7 linked regions of the Homo sapiens genome follow. The protein of the gene in region 1 purifies or fractionates together with the protein of each later gene. This does not show direct contact. Each region holds a gene or a part of one and is shown in the gene's direction. Other genes may lie near its edges.

Region 1 (3,500 bases):
TGGTCTACTACTTGGAGAGTCAGATGTGTACCCAAGTCTCTACTGCAGTTAACATTTACCTGCCAGGCACTAGGCTAAGTATTAGCAGCAGGTTCAAAGTGCATAAGATATAGACCTTGTCCTCAAGACTTAGTTTATTAGGAGAGACATGAATGTAAACACATCATGAAAATCCATTATAATAACTGCAATAATTGATATATCCTGAAGATGCAGAGATTGTCTAGAGGATAAAGTTATATATTCTGTTTGGTAGGGGATGATGTGGAGTTCAAATGGATCAGAGAACACTTCGCTGATTAGAAGTCAGTTGATCCACTAGAAGTCAAGGTGAACAAGGGGATTCAAAACAGAGGCAACAGCCTGTAAAAGGGAACAGAGGCATAAAAAAGCAGGATATGTTGTGAGAATATGTAGTTTGAAATTACCAAGCAAAAAGTTTAAGGACTCGTAGCCAGGCACAGTGGCTCATGCTGTAATCCCAGCACTTTAGGAGGCCAAGGCCGGCGGATCACTTGAGGTCAGGAATTTGAGACCAGGCTGGCCAACATGGTGAAACCCATCTCTACTAGAAATACAAAAAATTAGCTGGGTTTGTTGGCGTGTGCCTGTAATCCCAGCTATGAGGGAGACTGAAGCAGGAGAATGAACCCGGGAGGCAGAGATTGCAGTGAGCCGAGATCATGCCACTGCACTCCAGCCTGGGCAACAGAGCAAAACTGTCTCAAGAAAAAAGAAAAAAAAAAGTTTAAGGACTCAGAAGAAAGAGAAGGAGTGGTTGGCTGGAGAGAGGTTGGTAAGTCTCAGATTTTTAAGGACTTCATATTCCATGGTAAGGAGCTGGGACCTTAGTCTCTAGGCCAGTCTGAGGGATAAGGGATACTTGAAGGATTATAAATAGGAGAGTAAAATGAGGGACTGTTATGGTAGCTGGATGGCAGTGGAAAAGACAGGAAGCTCAATAGCCAGTTAAGGGGTTATTGCAAAGTAAAGCCATAGGTGATGAAGACTAACTTAGTGTTTTGGAAGTAGTAAGATAAATAAGGAGTATTCAGAACATAGAAAAGACAGGATTTGGAGAATGTATTGAATATGAAAATTAAAAAAGATAACATATAGCTCCAAGGTTTCTGGTTTGAATGCTGAGTGGATTGATGCTGTTCTTAGCTGAGATGGAGACTATTAGGAGGAAGAGTAGGTTGGGCAGAGTTTGAAAAGATTGTAGTTGAAGAGGTCAGGAGCTATGTCCCTACTGCAGTTTTCTGCAGTATCTGGCATGTCATGCACATGAGGGAAATACCAATTATATGAATAAATAGGAGGTAGGTTTTCGTTTGGATATTTATAGTGGGCAATAAGTTAAATGTTCTAGAATATAGATTTGGGGACATTAATGTCAAATTGATATTTAAAACTTAAGGAACAGAGAGAGGACTCATGCAGAATGAGAAAATAAAGAGGGCCAAACTCCGAGGAATGCCAGCATTTAAGTGACATGCGGACACCAGAAAAGCATTAAGGAGACATCATTAGCGAGATGGGATAACTAAATGCACATGACTCATAGAAAGGAAAGAAAGTTTGAAGACTGAGAAAGAATGGCAACATCATGATAAGCTAAAGATTAAAGGATACCCTTTAGAGTTAAGAATGAGAATATGTTTGATAATCTCAGAAAGGAGTTAGTTTCAGATATCAGATTACTTGGAGATAAGACCTGAATGGAAAGTGAGTAAAGGGCAGATAAAGAACGTTGATACTGTTTCAGGGAGAGATGGAGAAGGTATGGTAGCTAGAGGAAGTAGTATTTTATATTTTGTTTTTCAGATGCGAGAGTTTTGAGCATGTTTGTAGGCCAAGGGCAGTAAGCCAGTTAGTAGAGAGGAAGATAAAAAAGATACACTGGGTGTGGTGGCTCACGCCTATAATCCCAGCACTTTGGGAGGCCGAGGCGGGTGGATCACGAGGTCAGGAGATCAAGACCATCCTGGCTAACACAGTGAAACCCCATCTCCACTAAAAATACAAAAAATTAGCCGGGCGTGGTGGCGGGCACCTGTAGTCCCAGCTGCTTGGGAGGCTGAGGCAGGAGAATGACGTGAACCTGGGAGGTGGAGCTTGCAGTGAGCTGAGATCACGCCATTGCACTCCAGCCTGGGCAACAGAGCAAGACTCTGTCTCAAAAAACAAAAAACAAAAACAGACAAACAAACAAAAAGATACACTAAAGCCAAAGGAAATGGAGCCAAGTATCTGAGAAGGGAAGATTTGTTTTGAGTTGGAGTCTCGCTCTGTCTGGAGTGCACTGGCGCGATCTCAGCTCACTGCAACCTCCACCTCCCAGGTTCAAGCATTCTCTTGCCTCAGCCTCCCGAATAGCTGAGATTACAGGCATGTGCCACCATGCTCAGCTATTTTTTTGTATTTTTAGTAGATACGTGGTTTCACCATGTTGACCAGACGTGGTTTTACCATGTTGGCCACTCCTGACCTCAAGTGATCCACCTGCCTCGGCCTCCCAAAGTGCTGGGATTACAGGCATGAGCCACTGCACCCAGCTAGAAGGGAGGGTTTTAAAGGGGACATTGGATTAATAGTCGGGCCTTAGCCCCTTCCTCTGGGGCTGAAGGGAAACCAGTGAATGCCATGTAGAAAGGTATGTTAGTGTGGGCAGGAGATGTGTGGAGGGAAATCACATACCATGTTGTCATATGGTCTGGGATCGGCCGTGAAAGGACTGCAAGAAAACCACTGAAAAGCAAGAACAAGCTAAAGAACAGTGACAAGGGTTTGAAAGTTATAATCCAAAGTCCCCCCTTCTTATATGCACATGTTGGCTTATGTGTATCATGATGGATCATGAGAAGTATCATTGGAGGATAACAGAGTGTGAGTTAAGTCTAGCATTTAACTGAGAAAAAGGAGATGTTTTGACTATGCTTTGAATGATGGGGTAAAGTTGAACAGGCAGATATTTAAATTCAGGTGAACATTTATTAAGTGCCTGCTAAGTGCCAGGTATATGAACGTGACAAACATGGTCCATTTCTTGTAAGGATCTTCCATTCCATTTCACTTCACACACTTCCAATGAGACAAGTAGGGCCACAGAGGTTTAGAGGTAGTGCTATAAGAACAGAGATGAATAAAGAATTGATTCTGATTAGTTTGAGAAGGTCAAGGGAAACCACAGGAGAGTGGAAGAAAGTGTTCTGGATAGACAGTGTCCACTTGGCTTTTTTTCCCTACATTTGGCCAATTTTGGTTTAATGTGACTGAGAGAAGCAAGCAAATGTCTTCAAAAGTGGGGAAAATGCATTCCTGAAAATAGTACCCAATAAAGTTTATGTTTATCCTTGGCAAAATTGTAAAGCGAGTTGTTTGTAAGCATTTAGAAGAGACAGGTAACAGTTAAGATGAAGTCATACCAACCAAACCTCACTTCCTAATTCTATTGATTTGCAGTTTAGGATGTAGCTTTCCAACTCATCAGTGGGTTT
Region 2 (3,500 bases), on another chromosome or scaffold:
ATTTATGATGCTTAACTCTTACTTATATAAGCAAGAGGTTTATGTACTTTAGCCAGTGGAAGAATGTCATATGTCTGTTATCTTCAACAAGGCATTTAACAAAGCCTACAAACAGCATAAACCATAGTGTTGTTGGATCAGTGTCAAAGTGGAAGGATTAGTGCATTCCTTGTTCTAGTTATTTTAATCAGTGAATTCGGTAGTAATGACAGCTAATGCCTACATAGCAGTTAATATGCGCTAGGCATAGTTCTGTATGCTTCATATATATTAATTCATAACCAACCCTGTGATGTGAGTACTATTTTTGTTTTTTTTTTTTGTTTTTGGCAGTGGGTGGCTGTAGGGGTGGCAGTGGGGGAACAGAGTTTCATTCCTGTCACCCAGGCTGGATTGTAATGGCGTAATCTCGGCTAACTGCAACCTCCACTCCCCAGGTTCAAGCGATTCTCCTGCCTCACCCTCCCAAGTAGCTGGGATTACAGGCACATGCCTGGCTAATTTTGTATTTTTAGTAGAAACGGGGTTTCACCATGTTGGTCAGGCTGGTCTCGAACTCCTGACCTCAGATGATCCTCCCGCCTCGGCTTCCCAGAGCACTGAGATTACAAGGCCACCATGCCTGGCCTTGTTCTCATTTTAAGAAAGTATAGGGAGAGGCTGGGCATGGTGGCTTACGCCTGTAATCCTAACACTTTGGGAGGCCTCTTTGGTGCACACCTGTAGTCCAAGCTACTCAGGAGACCGAGGCAGGAGGATTGCTTGAGTCCATGAGTTTCAGGTTACACTGAGTCCAGTGAGCTATAATTGCACCACTATACTCCAGCCTGGGTTACAGAAAAAGACCCTGTCTCAAAAGAAAAAAAGAAAAAGCACAAAGAAGTGAAGTGACTTCTCCAAGGTCCCAGTTAATACAAATCAGGAGCGCTTAGCTCCTGTTAGAGAGCCTAACAGTTAGAAAACAGTGTTAGAATTCACAAAGAGCTGCCAAAGTAAAAGAAAATGTGAATTTGTAAGTCATTTAATGATTCATGGTGGTTTATAAATATGTGAACAGAATAAGAAAATCATTTAAAAGGAAGAAAGATGAGAAGATGGAGCCTGGAGTAAGATTACACAAGATGTACCTCAGATGCTTGATGCAGGCAACCCACAGATTTGATTTTTGAAATTACTGAGCAGCTAACTTGAGAGAAACACAATCATGTGGTCTATACAGTTAAAATAAACTGGTTATTTGAACCAAAACAGAACAGACAAAGGGTAGCCTGTCACAGTCTCTTGGTGAATGCTGTATGCTGAACAATATCTGTGATTAAAGTGATTAATTTCATAAAGGTAGTTCTTATAACTTCCCTAAAGTCCATTTCAGCAGAAATGGTTTTAACTACTGGTGCTATTGTGTCCGGAATTGGTGGGTTCTTGGTCTCACTGACTTCAAGAATGAAGCCATGGACCCTCGCGGTTAGTGTTACAGTTCTTAAAGGCGGTGTGTTCGGAGTTTGTTCCTTCTGATGTTCGGATGTGTTCGGAGTTTCTTCCTTCTGGTGGGTTCGTGGTCTCGCTGGCTCAGGAGTGAAGCTGCGACCTTCACGGTGAGAGTTATGGCTCTTAAGCTGGCGCGTCTGGAGTTGTTCATTCCTCCTGGTGGGTTCCTGGTCTCGCTGGCTTCAGGAGTGAAGCTGCAGACCTTTGCGGTGAGTGTTACAGCTCATAAAGGCAGTGTGGACCCAAAGAGTGAGCAGCAGCAAGATTTATTGCAAAGAGCGAAAGAACAAAGCTTCCACAGTGTGGAAGGGGACCTGAGCAGGTTGCCACTGCTGGTTCGGGCAGCCTGCTTTTATTCCCTTATCTGGCCCCACCCACATCCTGCTGATTGGTCCATTTTACAGAGCACTGATTGGTCTGTTTTACAGAGAGCTGATTGGTCCATTTTGACAGGGTGCTGATTGGTGCGTTTACAATCCCTGAGCTAGACACAAAAGTTCTCCAAGTCCCCACTAGATTAGCTAGATACAGAGCACTGATTGGTGCATTTACAAACCTTGAGCTAGATACAGAGTGCTGATTGGTGTATTTACAATCCCTTAGCTAGACATAAAGGTTCTCTAAGTCCCCACTAGACTCAGGAGTCCAGCTGGCTTCACCCAGTGGATCCCACACTGGGGCCACAGGTGGAGCTGCCTGCCAGTCCCGTGCCTTGCGCCCACACTCCTCAGCCCTTGGGTGGTCGATGGGACGGGGCACCATGGAGCAGGGGGTGGCGCTTGTTGGGGAGGCTCGGGCTGTGCAGGATCCCACAGCAGCAGGGGGAGGCTCAGGCATGGCCGGCTGTAGGTCCTGAGCCCTGCCCTACGGGGAGGCAGCTAAGGCCCAGTGAGAAAGCGAGCACGGTGCCGGCCCAGGGGGACCCAGCAGCACCCTCTGCAGCTGCTGGCCTAGGTGCTAAGCCCTTCACTGCCCGGGGCCGGTGGGGCCGGCCAGCCGCTCCGACTGCGGAACCTGCCAAGCCCATGCCCACCCGGAACTCGCGCTGGCCCGCAAGTGCCACACGCAACCCCAGTTCCCGCCCACACCTGTCCCTCCACACCTCCCCACAAGCTGAGGGAGCTGGCTCTGGCCTCAGCTAGTCCAGAAAGGGGCTCCCACAGTGCAGTGGCGGGCTGAAGGGCTCCTCAAGTGCGGCCAGAGTGGGCGCCGAGGCCGAGGAGGCGCCGAGAGTGAGCGAGGGCTGCAAGGGCTACCAGCACACTGTCACCTCTCAATCCCCCCTCTAAACAGGACACCCCAACTGCTGTTGGGAATTTGGCCAATGACTGCTCTAGCTACTTCCTGCTGGATAGGGGCAATGAAGTGGCCCTGCAGTTTTAGTGTCCTCCAGAGGGGAGCTCTCTAGGCCAGTAAAAGTGCCAGCAGGTTGGTCCAGGGGTCCTCAGTAGAATTTGTTAGTTGAACTCATTTGGGGTTCCATTTGTAAGACCATTTGTAGCTTGATGGCCTCGATGCTAGAGGAAACAAATTTGACAAGAAGGTTAAAAATACAGGGTCCAAAGGCAAGTAACAGCAAGATGGCTGCCACAGGACCTAGAAAGGGGAGAAGTCATGTTGCCCAACTCCAGAGGTTGGTATAAGAGTTTGAAAGGCATTGTCTGATTTCAGAAGCCTTTTCCTGTAAACACCAGGTGGCATCTCGTACTGGTTAGTGTAAAAATAACACTCTTCCCCTAAGAAGGTGCAGAGTCCTTTCTCAGCAGCGAAGAGGTCTAGGCCTTGGCGGTTTTGGAGATTCACTGCTGCCAAAGAGTCTATTTGGGATTGTAGAGTAAGGATAGATTTTGTTATTTCTTGCAAACTGTCTGAAAAATCCTTTGAGAGTGTGTGGTAGTAGAATAATGAAGTAGATAAACTGGCTATTCTGGTTCCTGTAGCAGTAGCCATTCCTAACCCTATAAGTAGGGGTATTAATTGTATGGCTCTGCACTAATGGAGTTGAGCTTTGA
Region 3 (2,827 bases), on another chromosome or scaffold:
CATTATATCGCACTAGAAAAGCGAGAGTTTCCCCCACATTTACAACTCTGAAATTCCTTTTGGAAACTCTGTAAATGATGTTGTTGATTTAAAAATTAGGGCCAGGAGCAGTGGCTGACACCTGTAATCCTAGCACTTTGGGAGGCCGAGGAGTGCGGATCACCTGAGGTCAGGAGTTCAAGAGCAGCCCGGCCAACGTGGTAAAATCCTGTCTCCACTAAAAATACAAAAATTAGCTGGGCGTGGTGGTGGGCGCCTGTAATCCCAGCTAATCAGGAGGCTGAGGCACGAGAATCGCTGGAACCCAGGAGGTGGAGGCTGCAGCGAGCCGAGATCATGCCACTGCACTCCAGCCTGGGAGACAGAGGGAAACTCCATCTCAAAAAAAAAAAAAAATTAGGCTTTTCCTATTTGTAGTATGAGTGCATTCTCTCTAGTACATTTTCCCTCAGATGACCCAGTAGTTGTTCACCTTTTTCCTTCAAACTGTAAAAACACAAAAATGAAGAGCTCTATTAATGTTAATTTTATTCTGATTTATTCCCCTAGCGGATCTGAAAAGAACAATTGCTGTCCTTCTGGATGACATTTTGCAACGATTGGTGAAGCTGGAGAACAAAGTTGACTATATTGTTGTGAATGGCTCAGCAGCCAACACCACCAATGGTACTAGTGGGAATTTGGTGCCAGTAACCACAAATAAAAGAACGAATGTCTCGGGCAGTATCAGATAGCAGTTGAAAATCACCTTGTGCTGCTCCATCCACTGTGGATTATATCCTATGGCAGAAAAGCTTTATAATTGCTGGCTTAGGACAGAGCAATACTTTACAATAAAAGCTCTACACATTTTCAAGGAGTATGCTGGATTCATGGAACTCTAATTCTGTACATAAAAATTTTAAAGTTATTTGTTTGCTTTCAGGCAAGTCTGTTCAATGCTGTACTATGTCCTTAAAGAGAATTTGGTAATTTGGTTGATGTGGTAAGCAGATAGGTGAGTTTTGTATAAATCTTTTGTGTTTGAGATCAAGCTGAAATGAAAACACTGAAAAACATGGATTCATTTCTATAACACATTTATTTAAGTATATAACACGTTTTTTGGACAAGTGAAGAATGTTTAATCATTCTGTCATTTGTTCTCAATAGATGTAACTGTTAGACTACGGCTATTTGAAAAAATGTGCTTATTGTACTATATTTTGTTATTCCAATTATGAGCAGAGAAAGGAAATATAATGTTGAAAATAATGTTTTGAAATCATGACCCAAAGAATGTATTGATTTGCACTATCCTTCAGAATAACTGAAGGTTAATTATTGTATATTTTTAAAAATTACACTTATAAGAGTATAATCTTGAAATGGGTAGCAGCCACTGTCCATTACCTATCGTAAACATTGGGGCAATTTAATAACAGCATTAAAATAGTTGTAAACTCTAATCTTATACTTATTGAAGAATAAAAGATATTTTTATGATGAGAGTAACAATAAAGTATTCATGATTTTTCACATACATGAATGTTCATTTAAAAGTTTAATCCTTTGAGTGTCTATGCTATCAGGAAAGCACATTATTTCCATATTTGGGTTAATTTTGCTTTTATTATATTGGTCTAGGAGGAAGGGACTTTGGAGAATGGAACTCTTGAGGACTTTAGCCAGGTGTATATAATAAAGGTACTTTTGTGCTGCATTAAATTGCTTGGAAAATGTTAACATTATATTATATAAGAGTATCCTTTATGAAATTTTGAATTTGTATAACAGATGCATTAGATATTCATTTTATATAATGGCCACTTAAAATAAGAACATTTAAAATATAAACTATGAAGATTGACTATCTTTTCAGGAAAAAAGCTGTATATAGCACAGGGAACCCTAATCTTGGGTAATTCTAGTATAAAACAAATTATACTTTTATTTAAATTTCCCTTGTAGCAAATCTAATTGCCACATGGTGCCCTATATTTCATAGTATTTATTCTCTATAGTAACTGCTTAAGTGCAGCTAGCTTCTAGATTTAGACTATATAGAATTTAGATATTGTATTGTTCGTCATTATAATATGCTACCACATGTAGCAATAATTACAATATTTTATTAAAATAAATATGTGAAATATTGTTTCATGAAAGACAGATTTCCAAATCTCTCTTCTCTTCTCTGTACTGTCTACCTTTATGTGAAGAAATTAATTATATGCCATTGCCAGGTAGAAGTTTGGAATAATTGTTTAGTCTCTCCTATTAGATGTGGACATTTTTGTTTTTGTTTTTGTTTTCAGGGATGAAATAAAATATATTATTTCTACCTACAAAGTATTACAGTCTTTTTTCTTTAATGTTGGTTGTGCATTTAATAAATGATAAATGGTTAAAAGGAATCTTAAGAAAAATTCGGTTTTGTTTCAATTCCAGATAACTTTTCCAAAAGAGAAAAATTGAAGGTTACCCAATAGTGCCTCTCATTTGATACTAGGGTAGGAGAGTCTGAGTGCAGAGATAGATTGGAGAACTAAGGCTTGACTTCTTAAAAATCAACAGTAAACTGATAATCTGAAATGGGTATGAGCTTCATTTAAAAATCAACAGTAGACTGTTGATTTTTAAGAAGTCAAGCCTTAGTATTTATATCTTCAGTTAATCTTAATTTGGACATTAGCACGGAGGGCATCACTAAAGGTACTAAAAACTTGCAAACTTTTATCAGGGTGTCTTTGGGTTTACTTTAAGCAAATATATGAATTAAAAAGTAATTTAAACATTATTTCAGGTAGTTAATGATAACTTAGGTCTCAGTTTTCAAGAAACACTT
Region 4 (3,500 bases), on another chromosome or scaffold:
TGGCCAACATGGTGAAACCCCGTCTCTACTAAAAATACAAAATTAGCCAGGCGTGTTGGCGCATGCCTGTAATCCCAGCTACTTGGGAAGCTGAGGCAGGAGAATTGCCTGAACCCGGGAGGCGGAGGTTGCAGTGAGCCAAGATCACACCATTGCACTCCAGCTTAGGCAACAAGAGCGAAACATCGTCTCAAAAAAAAAAAAAGAGAAAATGCTCAAATGTAATAAAGACAGTATTCATCGAGCGTTTTCTCTGTGCCATCAGTGTGCTGAGTGCTTTACCTGCACCATCTCATTTATTTCCCGCAAACCCTCCTGTGGTTTAGGTGCTACCATCCCCATTTGGCAGAAGTGGAAATGGAGTCCCCTAGAAGGTACGTAGCTTGTAGAAAGTCATGTAATTAGTCAACATCGTACTTCCAGCCACTGGCCAGCAGAAGCTTCCCCATCAATTCAAATCCATTGAATCCTAATGGCAATTTAAGAGGCCTGTTTTATTTTATAGGTGGGTGTTTGTGTGGGAAAAGGGCTACCAGGAAACTGACTCCGTGGTCAGCTCCGTTACGACCAAGGTCAAGGGCGTGGCTGTGACCAACACTTCTAAACTTGGATTCCGGATCTGGGATGTGGCGGATTATGTGATACCAGCTCAGGTGTGTCTCCCACTGTGTCTTCTGTCTAACACTGACACCTTGCTCTTTACTGACTTTGCACACTTGATTAATGATTGACGTGGCCTGAGTCCTGACATCACCAATGCCCAGAATGATTGTTTTAGTCCAAGAAAACGGTGCAGCCAGATCTCTTTTCAGCTTAGGATCTAACAGAGTGTATCCAGGCAGCTGTGGTTCCTCAGCTTGAAAGCATGGCAGGCTGAAAGCCCTGAAAGATGAGAAAACAAATGTCTTAAATCCTGATAGAAATTCAAGTGGAAATATCACCTTTCCACATTTTGGGTTTGCATTATTGTCCCAAATACACGAGGTAAATCTTTTCAGACAGTGTAAAAACTTTAGGCCGGGCACAGTAGCTCACGTGTGTAATCCCAGCACTTTGGGAGGCTGGGGCGGGCAGATACCTTGAGCCCAGGAGTTTGAGACCAGCCTGGGCAATGTGGTGAAACCCCATCTCTATAAAAAAAAAAAAAAAGAAAAAAAAAGAAAAGAATTAGAGACCATTAGAGACCAAAACCCAAACAAGAAGGAAACAGAGACAGCAGCACAGGACTCCATCGGGAGCGAAAGGAAGGGAAGACATTGTTTACTGCTGCATACTAGTCTTCAGGCTGTTAATCTGCAAAGCTCCAAGTTAAACATTGACTCTTTAGTCCTGGTAACAGCTCTGCACCACACAGTCAAACCCGACATAGCCCTCCAGATGGCCTATGTGCTAAGGGACCGAGGGCGACCAGTAGAGATAAGCTGCCAACTCTTGGCTCAGAGCTCTTGCCAGGGAAAACAAGAACTCCAGAAACTCTTTCTTCAGGTGTGTTCTTCCCCCTGCCTTCTCAAGAGAAGGGTCTTGTGGGGTCCCCAGAGAGGAGACCGAGCTAATGAGCCATAAAAGTCAGGAGGAAGGGCCAGGTGCGGTGGCTCATGCCTGTAATCCCAGCACTTTGGGAGGCCGAGGTCGGTGTATCATGAGGTCAAGAGATTGAGACCATCCTGGCTAACATGGTGAAACCCTGTCTACTAAAAATACAAAAATTAGTGGGGTGTGGTGGTGGGTGCCTGTAGTCCCAGCTACTAGGGAGGCTGAGGCAGGAGAATCTCTTGAACCTGGGAGGCGGAGGTTGTAGTGAGCCGAGATAGTGCCACTGCACTCCAGCCTGGTGACAGAGCAAGACTCCGTCTCAAAAAAAAAGATCAAGTGGAACAGGGGATTTGCAGTTGGCTGGAGGGGGCAGTCCTGTTAGCATGTACCTGTCTCAGCAGAGAGACGGTTGCCTCCTGTGCAGGCATAGCCTTGTCCCGGTGAGCTCTGGGAATGTCATGCTCGGTGTGTTTACTGGGCAGATGAGGAAGGGCACAAGCCCCGCTTTTGTCCCTTGGTGGAAAGGAGCACCCCACAACTCAGCCTTCCGTGGTGGATCTGGGCGGGGGCCGTGTGAGTTCCCCAGGGCTTTCCTCATGAGCTTTCACGACGTCTGTGTTCTTTGTAGATGGAACACAGTCATCTATTTGCAGCCCCTTGGCTCATCTCCAGACTGAAATTACCCTTAATTTGAAGTAGATAAGTGATAGGAAACAGGCCAGATGTGGTGGTTCATGCCTGTAATCTCAACACTTTTGGAGGCCGAGGCAGAAGGATCACTTGAGCCCAGGAGTTTGAGGCTGAAGTGAACTGTGATCACGCCACTGCACTCCAGCTAGGGCAACAGAGCAAGACCCCAACTCTAAAAGAGAGAGAAAGAAGGAGAGATAGGAAACGAAAAGTAGACCATACTGGATTGTTCCAAGTATAACTCAGGAGAGTCGTAGGAGCGGCCTTCTCTAACACCAAATGCAGAGTGTGTTTGTACATTGAACACCTGGGAACGTGACAGGTGGCGGGAGAGAGGCTGCAGCTCATGCCACATCCTCACGCCTCCTCCTGTGGCCTTCTCCTTGTCTCCCAACATAGTTTGCCCTAGGCCTTTGGAGGACGCCAGCTATTTCTAGAGCTTCCACCACTTGTCAGACCGTGGGGTTGGGGATGTCTACAGACTGGTTGGTTTCTGAGTTGCCCTGATCCCCAAGATGGCTCCCACTACTGACTGTTATCCTCAGGAGTGTGAAATGCTAAAAGCTTTGGGCATCTCCTTTTAAAATGCCTGGGCCCAGCCAGGCGCAGTGGCTTACGCCTGTAGTCCCAGCACTTTTGGAGGCCAAGGCAGGAGGATCACTTGAGCTCAGGATTCAAGACCAGCCTGGGCAATATAGTGAGACCCCATCTTGATTGGATGGGTGGTGGATGGATGGATGGATGGATGGATGGATGGATGGATGGATAGATAGATAGATAGATAGATAGATAGATAGATAGATAGATGGAAAGAAAGAAAGAATAGATAAATGATAGGATAGGAGAAAGAAAGGGAAAGAAAGAAAAGAGAAGAGAAAAGAAAGAAAAGGGATAGGATAGATGACAGATGATAGGATAGATTAGATAGGTGATAGATAATCGATAAATAGAAAACAGATGATAGATATAGGATAGATTAGATAGATAGATAGATAGATAGATAGATAGATAGACAGATAATAGATAGATTAGATTAGATGGATGGACACCAGCCCCCAATGAGAGGAGGATCCAACTAGAATCTTTTGGGGTCTTTGCCTTTTATTCCTTATATGAGGAGGTCATTATCAGCAATTCTTCAGTCTCATCCCTAGCAAATTGCTTTCCAGAAACTCTAAATCAATTATTTGGCACCTTTATACATATAAGGAGGAAACAGAACCTTTTCAAAGAGAAATGTCACTTGCTGACCCTGACCGAGTCTTCTCTAGAATGTT
Region 5 (3,500 bases), on another chromosome or scaffold:
TTTTTTTTTGTCACCTTCTGGGATATATTTACCTGGGGTCATTCACAGATAGCCACCTAGTTCACTGTAATCAAACTGCATATGACAAAGCTAGATACGGTCAGCACTCCAAAGAGTATTAAGCCAATGTGGAATATCAAAGCTTAATGCCATTACACCTGGGAGTCACAGGTCATTAGTGGTTTGGGTGGTCAGCTTAGGGTTCTGCTTAGAAACCTTTATGGATTAATGTCTCGTGAATGGTTAATAGAAAATGGTACTACTTCTTGTATGAAGTCATTAGTATTTTGCTGAAGTAATAATTACCTTAAGCTCTTTAATTTAAATTTAAGTTTAAGAATTTGAACTACAGTGGTGACTTTCCTGGTAGGGGAAACAGAAAATAAGACTCTGCTTTCAGAGCGGAACTAAAATGGTGAGACAGTAGGAACCAGTATGTTTGCTTTTTGGACTTTTTTGCTGTGGACTGCACCAAAAATGTAGACAGTCAGTTGATTGAATGATACAATTTTTAAAAGGTAAAAGCTTTATAAAGCCTTATAAATAAGTTAAGGCTATAGGCCTACTGTCTTCACTTTTGAGAAATAGAGTTTGTGGATGGACGTACTTATACTGTTGCATTAGGGGCTCGTAGGCCAAGATTGGTTTCTGCAGGAAACTCAATTTTGTTTGTCCCAAGTTAAAGATAAATCTCATGTGATTTAAAATGTTTTGAGATGTTGCACTTAGGCTGGGAAAGAGTAAAGATTACAGAAAACCAACTTTTAGATGTTTTTTAGCATTTTCCTTTTTTAAAAATTATACCAAATATGTAATATATTTGCTTCCACTTAGATATATCTAAGTTTATTAAGATGGTTTGGGGAAAAATTTGTGTATTTACCAATTGTTCACATAGAAACAATCTTAAATAAATAACTTGATTTTTAAGTGTTATGCCTGGGAGGAAGGCTGGCATAGCTGGAATTCATTAGTTAATACAGAAAACCAGGATGTTAACTGCTGTATTTTCATTGTCATGCAGAGCCTAAAAGTAGACTTTAATTTGTGTTATAAAATAAACTGAAGACTTGAGAAGGCAGGAAGCCTGGGTGGCCACCCCACACATTTACTCCTGTATTGTTAGGGTGATCCTTCATTGTTACAATCATTTTCTTTTTATAGCATAGTTAAGAACAAAGGCTTGGGAGCCAGAATGCCTCAGTTTGAATCCCAGCCCTGTGATCTTAGACAAGTTATTTAACCTCACTGTATCACAGTTTTCTCATGTGCAAAATGGACATGAGTCCGTTTTGTACCTGCTTTACAGAGTTTTGTGAGGATTAGGTGAATTAAACCACGTGGAACAGTGCCTAGCACAGAGAAAACATTATGCAAGTGTTAGTTGTTATTGTTTTCATTCCCATTTATTTTCCATTTAATTGCTTTAATCTTAAAGACTGGGACAGAGAAAGCACTATACAAGTGTTAGCTATTATTATTTTCATTTCCACTTATTTTGCATTTTGTTACTTTAATCTTACGAAAGAGTAATATGTTTCTACTTTGTATGCATGTTTGTGTGTGCACGTGAATAAGTGAAAATAAAAAAATTTTTCCTGTTTGAATAGGACAATACCATTTGAGGGGTTATTTACAATCCTAAATTCTTAGAACTGCCTTTGAGTCATGCCTTTTCTTTATTTCCATATTTGGTTACTTGCAGGTCATGTCAGTGATTAGTTTCACTTAGACATCTTTCCCCTGCTATATTTGAGATCCTCAAGATCGGGTTCATTGATTCACTAGAAAGATTGACACATTATAGTCATACGCATGGCTGTGATTTATCATAGCCAAAAGACGCAAAACAAAATCAGCACATGGGGTGAAATCCAGAGGAAACCAGACACAAGGCTTCCAAGAGTCCTCTTCCTGTGGAGTCACAGGACAGGCTAATTCAGATTGAATTAAGACAACATGTGTGAAATATTGTTTATCAGGGAAGCTCCTTAGAGACTTTATTCAGTGTTAGAGGCTGGTCATGTAGGTGCCCTTGGCTAATGTTCCAAAATTCCAAACTCTCAGAAGGAAGGTAGGTGGTCAACATAAACCACATATTTTATACAGGCATGAAGCACAGTGAGCCATTCTTAGGAGTTAGGGAATGGTGAGGTCCCCTCTGGATAAACAAGGTCCCAGACACCTGCCAAGGGCCAACCTTGCAAGCAAGACTTTCTAAGGACAGCAGCAGCAGGCCTGCTGTGGGAACTCTTTTCTGCCCACCTGCCCATAATTACCCTAGTGTTTGTCCTCATCATCTTTTAAACCTCATTTTTCAAAGCCTATTAACTGGCTTCCCTGAGTTCCAGCATACTGTACTTGGATCTGTCCCACTAATCTCCTATCTTTAACTAGGCTTTTATTGTGTCTTTTTCCTGCTCATGACCTTTCATTAGCTCCTTATTTAATCATGTCTGTAAAAGGACTTTGGGGGCCGGGCGCAGTGGCTCATGCCTGTAATCACAGAACATGGGGAAGCTGAGGCAGGCAGATTGCTTGAGGCCAGGAGTTAGAGACCAGCCTGGCCAACATAGTCAAACTCTGTCTCTACTAAAAATACAAAAATTAGCCAGGTGTAGGGGCTCATGCCTGTAATCCTCCCAAGAAGCTGGGCTGAGGCACGAGAATTGCTTGAACCCAAGGGGCATAGGTTGCAGTGAGCCAAGATCATGCTGCTGCCCTCCAGCTTGGGCAATAAAGCAAGACTCTGTCCCCAAAAAAAAAAAAAAAAAAAAGGACTTTGGGAACCCCATAACTGCTCCCTGCTAAGCTTTATTTCCACCTTCTATCTCTCATTTATTATGGTTCTTTTGTGTCCAGTGAAGTCAGTGTGTGTTCTGTCCCACTCACACCTGGTACATTTCCCACCTGGGTGCCTTTGCCTCCCTCACCAGGAACCTCACTTGCCCTCTCTCCTGTATTCAGACCCTCCTTCATCTCCTAGATCCACTTCAAGTTCCACCTCCTCCATTGAATAATTCTTCCCAGCCCATCATTCTCTGTCCTTTCTGAGCTTCCTTCAACACTCCTAGTATATTACTGATGATGCCTAGTTAATTACAATCAGGTATTAGTTCCTGTTGCTTTGTGTTTATTCATCTTATCTTCCCACATAGTCTGTACTCCACCAGGTACTGCATAACTAGCTACTGGTTGAATGATACAGACTTAACCATTTCTGCACAGTAGACATTTCCTCTGCTGTGTTTAGCTTTAATAATCTGCTAGTTCTTTCCTAAGAAGCAGATGGTAATATAATGAATGATACTTGTTTCTAGAATTTAGGTATTCATCTTCCCTCTCTACAAAGTATGCTCAGCAAATCTTTCTGAGAGTTGTTAAGACATTATTAGCACATATATACTGATTTCATGATGTATTTTTGTCATACTTCATGGTGAAATAATCTCTTTATTCATTTTTCTTTGTCAACCACATACTACTTTGCTCAAAACACT
Region 6 (3,500 bases), on another chromosome or scaffold:
ATATGTCTAGAATTTGTTTTGAGATAATCTAGAGGGGTTGGGAGAAAATGGGGGTATAGATTAAATATGCATTAATAATTGTTGAAGCTACACAGTAATTACTTTGGCATTGACTATATTGTCATGTTTGCCTTTCCATGTGTTTGAAATTTTCCATGGTAAGAGGTTAGAAGTATTTTAGCTGTAGATAAAAGACCAATAGTGTTAGAAAATACTGTCCTGTCTTACCTTCCTTTAATCCCGATTTTACAAATACACTGTGCTTTTAAAAGGTGGAATTATCTGTCCATACCTTGTACTCATAGCCATACCAAGGGCTGCAGTGATTTTGTTTCTCTAAAACCACAATGAAAAATGATTTCCTTCCTTTGTACCTTCTAGAAAAACAGCATTCCCCACCCTTTGATTTTGTTAGGATGTAAACATGACTTTGGGATTGGTCAATCATTTCTTGGCGCATTACTGTGCCTTTTGTATGTGGTTCAGTGTGAATCAGTATATGCCTCTTTGTTTTCCAGGTCCTCGTTCACCTGGGACTCCTGACCAAGGAATCTGGATTTAAGATTGCAGAGACAGCTTTCAGTGGTGGCCCTCTTGGTGAATTAGTTCAATGGAGTGATTTAATTACATCTCTGTACTTACTGGGCCATGACATTAGGATTTCAGCTTCACTGGCTGAGCTCAAGGAGTAAGGAGATTACTTTTCAATTTTAAAATCAGAATACAAAAAAGAAATTGTAAACTCTTAAAGTATTACCTCTATTAGTGTATAATTTTTTGTCGAGGAAAATGAAAGTGATAATTCACTAAACAGGAGATAAGAAGATTATTTTCAGGAGCTAAATACATACACTGTGAAAAGGATAATATGTTTTCATTGTCGCTGAAGGCTCCAGAGGCTTCATAAATGAATGCCAGAAAATTCAAACTAAGGAGCTTATTCTTTGCTATTACAGGTGCTTCCAACATCTGGAGCACAAAACATTATTGACTTTCCTAATTCCCTGTCTCTTGCTGAAATTCATACCACTGCCTACTCAACATCAATCTTGCTAAATCTTGAAACAGGGCAGGTTCCTGTTTGTAATTCAATTTGGATAGAATAAATTTCCTGAAAGCCCTGAGCTGATCCTTTTTCAATTAGCCAACTTTCAGCTGAGTCTGTTAACTCTACTTGGGTTTTTCATTTCACTGAAATTTGCTTCTAGCTCCAGCCCTCCTGTAATCCCTTCTATATTGGCATAGCTGGCTGAGCAGGGACGCTTCCATCCCCTGCAGTCACTTAGGATTACTGCCCATGGAGACTTCCCACCCAACAGTCAAGTTGCCATGTTGCTATATGTCGTATATTTCCAGAAGGAATACCTTGAATGAACATTCTAGAGCTCATTGAGATGAGAGACATGTTAAAACAATATATGGTGGCTCCCAGCACTTCGGGAGGCCAAGGTAGGTAGATCACTTGAGGCCAGGGGTTCAAGAACAACCTGGCCAACATGGTGAGACCCTGTCTGTACTAAAAATACAAGAATTAACCGGGTGTGGTGGCCCATGCCTGTAGTCCCATCTACTCGAGAGGCAGAGGCTGCAGTGAGCCGAGATCATGCCACTGCACTCCAGCCTGAGTGACAGAGCAAGTCTCTGTCTTAAAAAAAAAAAAAAAAAATTGGATACACAACCTACAAAGTGGCTGCATTTATACAGTTAGCAGTCACTCATCTGGTGTCTTCTGTAGGCTAGTTTTGGTGTCGGGCATACAGAGATGGCCAGCTTGTGGTCAAAGATCTTGCTGCCAATCTTTTGATAATTACAACTAATATATTAAAAATAATTACACAAATTCCAATTCTATTGGTGCTAATTGAGGTGTACGTGGATGCTAGAATGTAAGCACTGGGATTGCAGAAAACTGAGTATCGTTTGTCACTGTGTAGTGGGCACCTAGATAGTGCCTAGCAAGTAATGAGTACTCACATAACTATTTATAGAATGAATGAGTGAAGGAATAAATAGGTGAATGAATGAGTGGGTAGGTAAATAAATGGAGTGCTGTGGTAGAACCAGGGACAAGTACTGCCTGGGGAGGTCAGGAAAGACATGTTAGGGATTTATCAGTCAGAGACTGAATTTGATGGTCAAGGGAAAATTTGTTCAGTATGTCCTCACTTAACATCGTTGATAGGTTCTTGGAAACTAGGACTATAAATGAAATTATGTAAAATGAAACCAATTTTTTTCATCAACATTATAACCAGTGATTTGAAGGAAATGACTTTATTGGAGGGCCTGCTATCTGTTGTTTTGTTTAAAGTCCCAGTTTTCAGGAACCTATTGATGATGTTAAGTGAGGACTTAATTCTAGTAGTCTTTATGCACACTGGGGTCAGGGCTAGATGTGTTTTGTTTAAGAAGATAATTGTGGAAGCAGTATAGAGCAGTGGTCTTTAAATATATCTGTACGTTAGAACCACCTGGAGATCTTTGTATTTATTTCTTAATTTTGGGGGATCTTTTAAAAATCCCATAGACCATGCCATAGGCTAATTAGATCACAACCCTTGGGGGTAGGACACAGCCATAAGTATTTTGTGATGCCTCCAGGTAATTTCATTATACAGACAAGTTTGGGAAACACTGAACATGGGGTGGACCAGAGATCAGCAAACTATGGCTCAGCAGGCCAAATCAGCCCTCTGTCTTTTTTTGTAAATACAGTTTCATGGGAACACAGCCATGCCTATTGTTTACGTATCATATATAGCTGTCTTCATTCCACAACGGGAGAATGGGCCAGTTGTGACTGAAAATGTATGGCCTGCAAAGATGAAGATAATCACTGTCTGGCCCTTAACAGAAAGGGTTTTCTGACTCTTGGGAGGAAACTGGTTCTGCAGAACCTAGTTCTTTCATAAACAGGGGAGAGGAAGAAGGGTGGCTGATGTGGTGGTAGTACAGAGCTGTCAAGCAGAGTCCTGTTTGTGACTCTCGTCCTTTGAAGCAGGATATCCATAATTTGGTGAAGGATTATCATGGGGTGTTGCAGATAAGCAACAGTGGTGACTGATTAGTGAGTGGATGGCAGTAGGGTTAGCACTGACTCGTTCCTACACATGAAGTTGGCCTACCAATCAAGTACATCGTCACGCTCTGAGCGCAAGTATGGTTTTGTGTGGATGGATGCATGGGTGGGGGAAAGGGTGATTAAAAAAAACTGTAAACCATAGTGCTAGTTCTGTAATATGGTCAAGCGAGGAGGAAAAATTTGACATAAGAGAAAAAGTTAAGGAACAGTATGAGGCAGGTAGAAAGAAGTTAATACTATAGAGGCTAGAAATTGAAGACATTTAGAAAAAGGGGAGGGGAAGGTTAGTAAGGGTGCTAAGCGGTAAGAACAGGCTCTGGGGGAGAAAACTAAGTTATTGAGTATCTAGTATTCATTAGGCACTTTCTTTTCAATATCTCATTGTGAAGAACCCCTGAGAGACTGGTATCCAATGTTC
Region 7 (3,500 bases), on another chromosome or scaffold:
GCTAATTTTTGTATTATTAGCAGAGACAGGGTTTTGCCACGTTGGCCAGGTTGGTCTTGAATTCCTGACCTCAAGTGATCCGCCTGCCTCGGCCTTCCAAAGTTCTGGGATTGCAGGTGTGAGCTACCATGCCTGGCCTATTCACTTTTTTTCTGTTTCCTTTGATCCTCTTGCCTATCCCGTCTGCCCTGAAACTTTCTTCTTGCCATGATTCTCTTTCATTGTGTCCCCCAACTCTGGAGATCCCCAGGTTGAGTCAGCCTCCTTCCCGGACTTCATATCCTCCTAAGAGTGGGCATGCCCCAAGGTTGTGCCATTGATCCTCGAATTATTTCACTGTATGCTTTCTCCTTAGGAGTCACCTGCTTTTATGACCTCCCTTTCACCTTTATGATCATGACCTCAGATCTTTTTCCAATCTAACCCCTTCACCTCTAAGTGCGTGGCCCATATCTTCAATTCATGTTCTGACATCTCCTCCTGAAATAAACTACCTTCATATAAAACTTGTCTTATACTGAGTTTCTCATGTTTCTCCCAAACCCCTTAACTAAGTTCATTGACAATACTTAACATCACAGAAAAGTTTGTGCCTTTTGACCTAATATTCTCACTCATGCTAATTAGCCCTAAGGGGAAAAAAAATTCTGAAGGTAAACACACACACACACACACACACACACACACACAGAGTCTATATACTCTGGAGCCAAATTTCCTGGATTTAAATCCATCTTTGTCACTTACTGTGTGATCCTGGGCAAATTACATAGCCTCTGTGGTGCTTTGGTTTTCTGATGTGTAAAGTTGGGACTATAATAATGCCTAATTTATAGGTCATTGTATAGATAAATGAATTATTATGTAAAGCACTTACAGTAGTACTGGTACAATTTAAGCACTATATAAATATTAGCCATTACATTGGGGCTTACTTTATAATATTTAATAACTGTGAAAAATCTAGAAGGATTATTTACATAAAATTTAGGTCAACTTGATGGAATATATGTAAGCGATTAAAGATCATGGCCGGGCACAGTGGTTCACACCTGTAATCCCAGAACTTTGGGAGGCTGAGGCGGGTGGATTGCTTGAGTACAGGAGTTTGAGACCCAGCCCGGGCAACATCTCTACAAAAATTAGCCAGGCACGGTGGCTCATGCCTATAATCCCAGCACTTTGGGAGGCCGAGGTGGGCGGATCACCTGAGGTCAGGAGTTTGAGACCAGCCTGACCAACATGGCAAAACCCCATCTCTACTAAAAATACAAAAATTAGCCAGGCGTGATGGTGGCCACCTATAATCCCAACTACTCGGGAGACTGAGGCAGGAGAATTGCTTGAACCCAGGAGGCGGAGGTTGCAGTGAGCTGAGATTGTGCCATTGCACTCCAGCCGGGGTGACAGAGCGAGACTCCCTCTCAAAAAAAAAAAAAAAAAAAATCGCGCCACTGCACTGCAGCCTGGGTGACAGAGCGAGACTCCATCTCAAAAAAAGAAAAAAAAAAAAACTCGTGCCACTGCACTCCAGACTGGACGACAGAGCGAGACTCCGTCTCAAAAAAAAAAAAAAAAAAAAAAAATTAGCCAGGCATCGTGGTACACATCTGTAGTCCCAGCTACTCAGGTGGCTGAGGTGAGAGGATCATTTGAGTCTGGGAGGTTGGGGCTGCAGTGAGCTGAGATCACACCACTGCACCCCAGCTTGGGTGACAGAGCAAGACCCTGTCTCAAAAAAAAAAAAAACAAAAACATAATTGTGAAGAGTATGGTAACATGGAAAATGTTTATGATGTATTTAAAAGTTATGATAATATTTTTGCACGGTAAGGTTAGGGAATGATGTCCTCCCCGTTATTGTTATAATTTTGTTTATGCAAAAATAAAAATCTCAGAAGAAAAGGGTTGCTCATCTAAATTTGCTTTTAGTATTACCATCACTCTTCCAGGTTTGAAATTTCAGTCATTCTTGACTTTATCTCTCTTTCCCCACCACCAGTCAAAATGTTTCTTAAATTCATTTCTTTATGATTTTATTACTGATACTGTGTCCTCCTAACCTTAAACCTAGACTATTGAATTAGTGTTCTGTTTGACTTGTTTCTTTTTTCCATTCCACCTTTGTGTAAACGGTGACCCAGGTCTCATCACAGACTAATTTTTCTAAGTTACTATTTTGTACCCATGATGTTTCTTGCTCAAAAATCTTCATTGCTCTTTGTTCTTTAGAGGTTGAACCCCAAACTCATTAGCTTGTTTTTTTTTTTGTTTTTTTTTTTGAGACAGAACCTGGCTCTTTTGCTCAGTCTGGAGTGCAGTGGCGCGATCTCAGCTCACTGCAACCTCCACCTTCCAGGTTTAAGCAGTTCTCCTGCCTCAGCCTCCCAAGTGGCAAAGGACTACAGGCGCACGCCACCACGCCTGGCTAATTTTTTGTATTTTTAGTAGAGACATGGTTTCACCATGTTAGCCAGATGGTCTCCATCTCCTGGCCTCGTGATCTGCCTGCCTCATCCTCCCAATAGCTTGGCGTTTTGTTTTGTTTTTTGAGACGGAGTTTCACATGTGTTGCCCAGGCTGGAGTGCAATGGCACGATCTCAGCTCACTGCAACCTCCACCTCCTGGTTCAAGCAATTCTCCTGCCTCAGCCTCTCAAGTAGCTGGGATTACAGGTGCCTGCCACCATGTCTAGGTAATTTTTTCTATTTTTAGTAGTGATGGGGTTTCACCATGTTGGCCAGGACGGTCTTGAATAATTCCTGCCCTCAAGTGATCCACCCACCTTGCCTTCCAAAGTGCTGGGATTACAGGCATGCGCTACTGCGCCCGGCCTAGCTTGGCATTTAAAACCTGCTGTGGTTGGCCCCTTTCTTAACTTTCCAATTTTGTATTTTAGCTACTCTCATTACTAAACGTGTAGTTCCAACCAAACAGTCTGTCTAGAGATCCTCTTCAAGTTCTGCCACCATGCCTTTGCTCACACTATTCTCTTGCTTGGATTTGCCTTACCCCTTCTTTCTGCTTATTCATGCCTTCCTCTTACTTCACTGTCCACCTTCTCTTGAGGCCTTTCTTGGCCGCTTGAGTTCTTACTGATTATTCCTGCCCTCTGAACTCCTGTAGTACCAATTGGATATAGCAGTTATTTATAATAACTTTGTTACTTGTCTGTCTATATCCTTTATTTACAAATAGACAGCTGTTTGAGGTCAGGGGTGAGTTTTTACTTCTGTGTTCATAGAACAGGACAATGCTGTCAGTATGTGGTGTGTGTGTGTGTGTGTGTGTGTGTGTGTGTGTGTGTGTGTGTTTTGTTTTGTTTTTTCAGACAGAGTTTCACTCTATTGCTGAGGCTGGAGTACATGGCATGATTTCAACTCACTGCAGCCTCAACCTTCCAGGGTCAAATGATCCTCCTGCCCCAGCCTCTGAGTAGCTGATGTGTACCACCACGCCCGGCTAATTTTTTTATTTTTTGTAGAGATAGGATTTTGTC

The links.
Region 2: the proteins of SLC35A5 (region 1) and PI4K2B purify together in Homo sapiens (affinity purification with mass spectrometry; one large-scale study listed by BioGRID and IntAct). This does not show direct contact.
Region 3: the proteins of SLC35A5 (region 1) and CCDC126 purify together in Homo sapiens (affinity purification with mass spectrometry; one large-scale study listed by BioGRID and IntAct). This does not show direct contact.
Region 4: the proteins of SLC35A5 (region 1) and P2RX4 purify together in Homo sapiens (affinity purification with mass spectrometry; one large-scale study listed by BioGRID and IntAct). This does not show direct contact.
Region 5: the proteins of SLC35A5 (region 1) and WDFY1 purify together in Homo sapiens (affinity purification with mass spectrometry; one large-scale study listed by BioGRID and IntAct). This does not show direct contact.
Region 6: the proteins of SLC35A5 (region 1) and MGAT5 purify together in Homo sapiens (affinity purification with mass spectrometry; one large-scale study listed by BioGRID and IntAct). This does not show direct contact.
Region 7: the proteins of SLC35A5 (region 1) and STX12 purify together in Homo sapiens (affinity purification with mass spectrometry; one large-scale study listed by BioGRID and IntAct). This does not show direct contact.

What each region holds. Positions count from the first base shown.
Region 1 is NC_000003.12:112,565,045-112,568,544, forward strand, and holds part of SLC35A5 (UDP-sugar transporter protein SLC35A5), read left to right. Parts: intron 1-3,500. UniProt on the Homo sapiens protein: Probable UDP-sugar:UMP transmembrane antiporter involved in UDP-alpha-D-glucuronate/UDP-GlcA, UDP-GlcNAc/UDP-N-acetyl-alpha-D-glucosamine and UDP-N-acetyl-alpha-D-galactosamine/UDP-GalNAc transport from the cytosol to the lumen of the Golgi.
Region 2 is NC_000004.12:25,237,033-25,240,532, forward strand, and holds part of PI4K2B (phosphatidylinositol 4-kinase type 2-beta), read left to right. Parts: intron 1-3,500. UniProt on the Homo sapiens protein: Together with PI4K2A and the type III PI4Ks (PIK4CA and PIK4CB) it contributes to the overall PI4-kinase activity of the cell. This contribution may be especially significant in plasma membrane, endosomal and Golgi compartments.
Region 3 is NC_000007.14:23,642,382-23,645,208, forward strand, and holds the end of CCDC126 (coiled-coil domain-containing protein 126 precursor), read left to right. Parts: intron 1-549; coding exon 550-734; 3' UTR 735-2,327; downstream 2,328-2,827.
Region 4 is NC_000012.12:121,216,629-121,220,128, forward strand, and holds part of P2RX4 (P2X purinoceptor 4), read left to right. Parts: intron 1-326; coding exon of another isoform or gene 327-374; intron 375-505; coding exon 506-653; intron 654-3,500. UniProt on the Homo sapiens protein: ATP-gated nonselective transmembrane cation channel permeable to potassium, sodium and calcium. CTP, but not GTP or UTP, functions as a weak affinity agonist for P2RX4.
Region 5 is NC_000002.12:223,935,336-223,938,835, reverse strand, and holds part of WDFY1 (WD repeat and FYVE domain-containing protein 1), read left to right. Parts: intron 1-3,500. UniProt on the Homo sapiens protein: Positively regulates TLR3- and TLR4-mediated signaling pathways by bridging the interaction between TLR3 or TLR4 and TICAM1.
Region 6 is NC_000002.12:134,341,072-134,344,571, forward strand, and holds part of MGAT5 (alpha-1,6-mannosylglycoprotein 6-beta-N-acetylglucosaminyltransferase A), read left to right. Parts: intron 1-518; coding exon 519-688; intron 689-3,500. UniProt on the Homo sapiens protein: Catalyzes the addition of N-acetylglucosamine (GlcNAc) in beta 1-6 linkage to the alpha-linked mannose of biantennary N-linked oligosaccharides.
Region 7 is NC_000001.11:27,797,219-27,800,718, forward strand, and holds part of STX12 (syntaxin-12), read left to right. Parts: intron 1-3,500. UniProt on the Homo sapiens protein: SNARE promoting fusion of transport vesicles with target membranes. Together with SNARE STX6, promotes movement of vesicles from endosomes to the cell membrane, and may therefore function in the endocytic recycling pathway.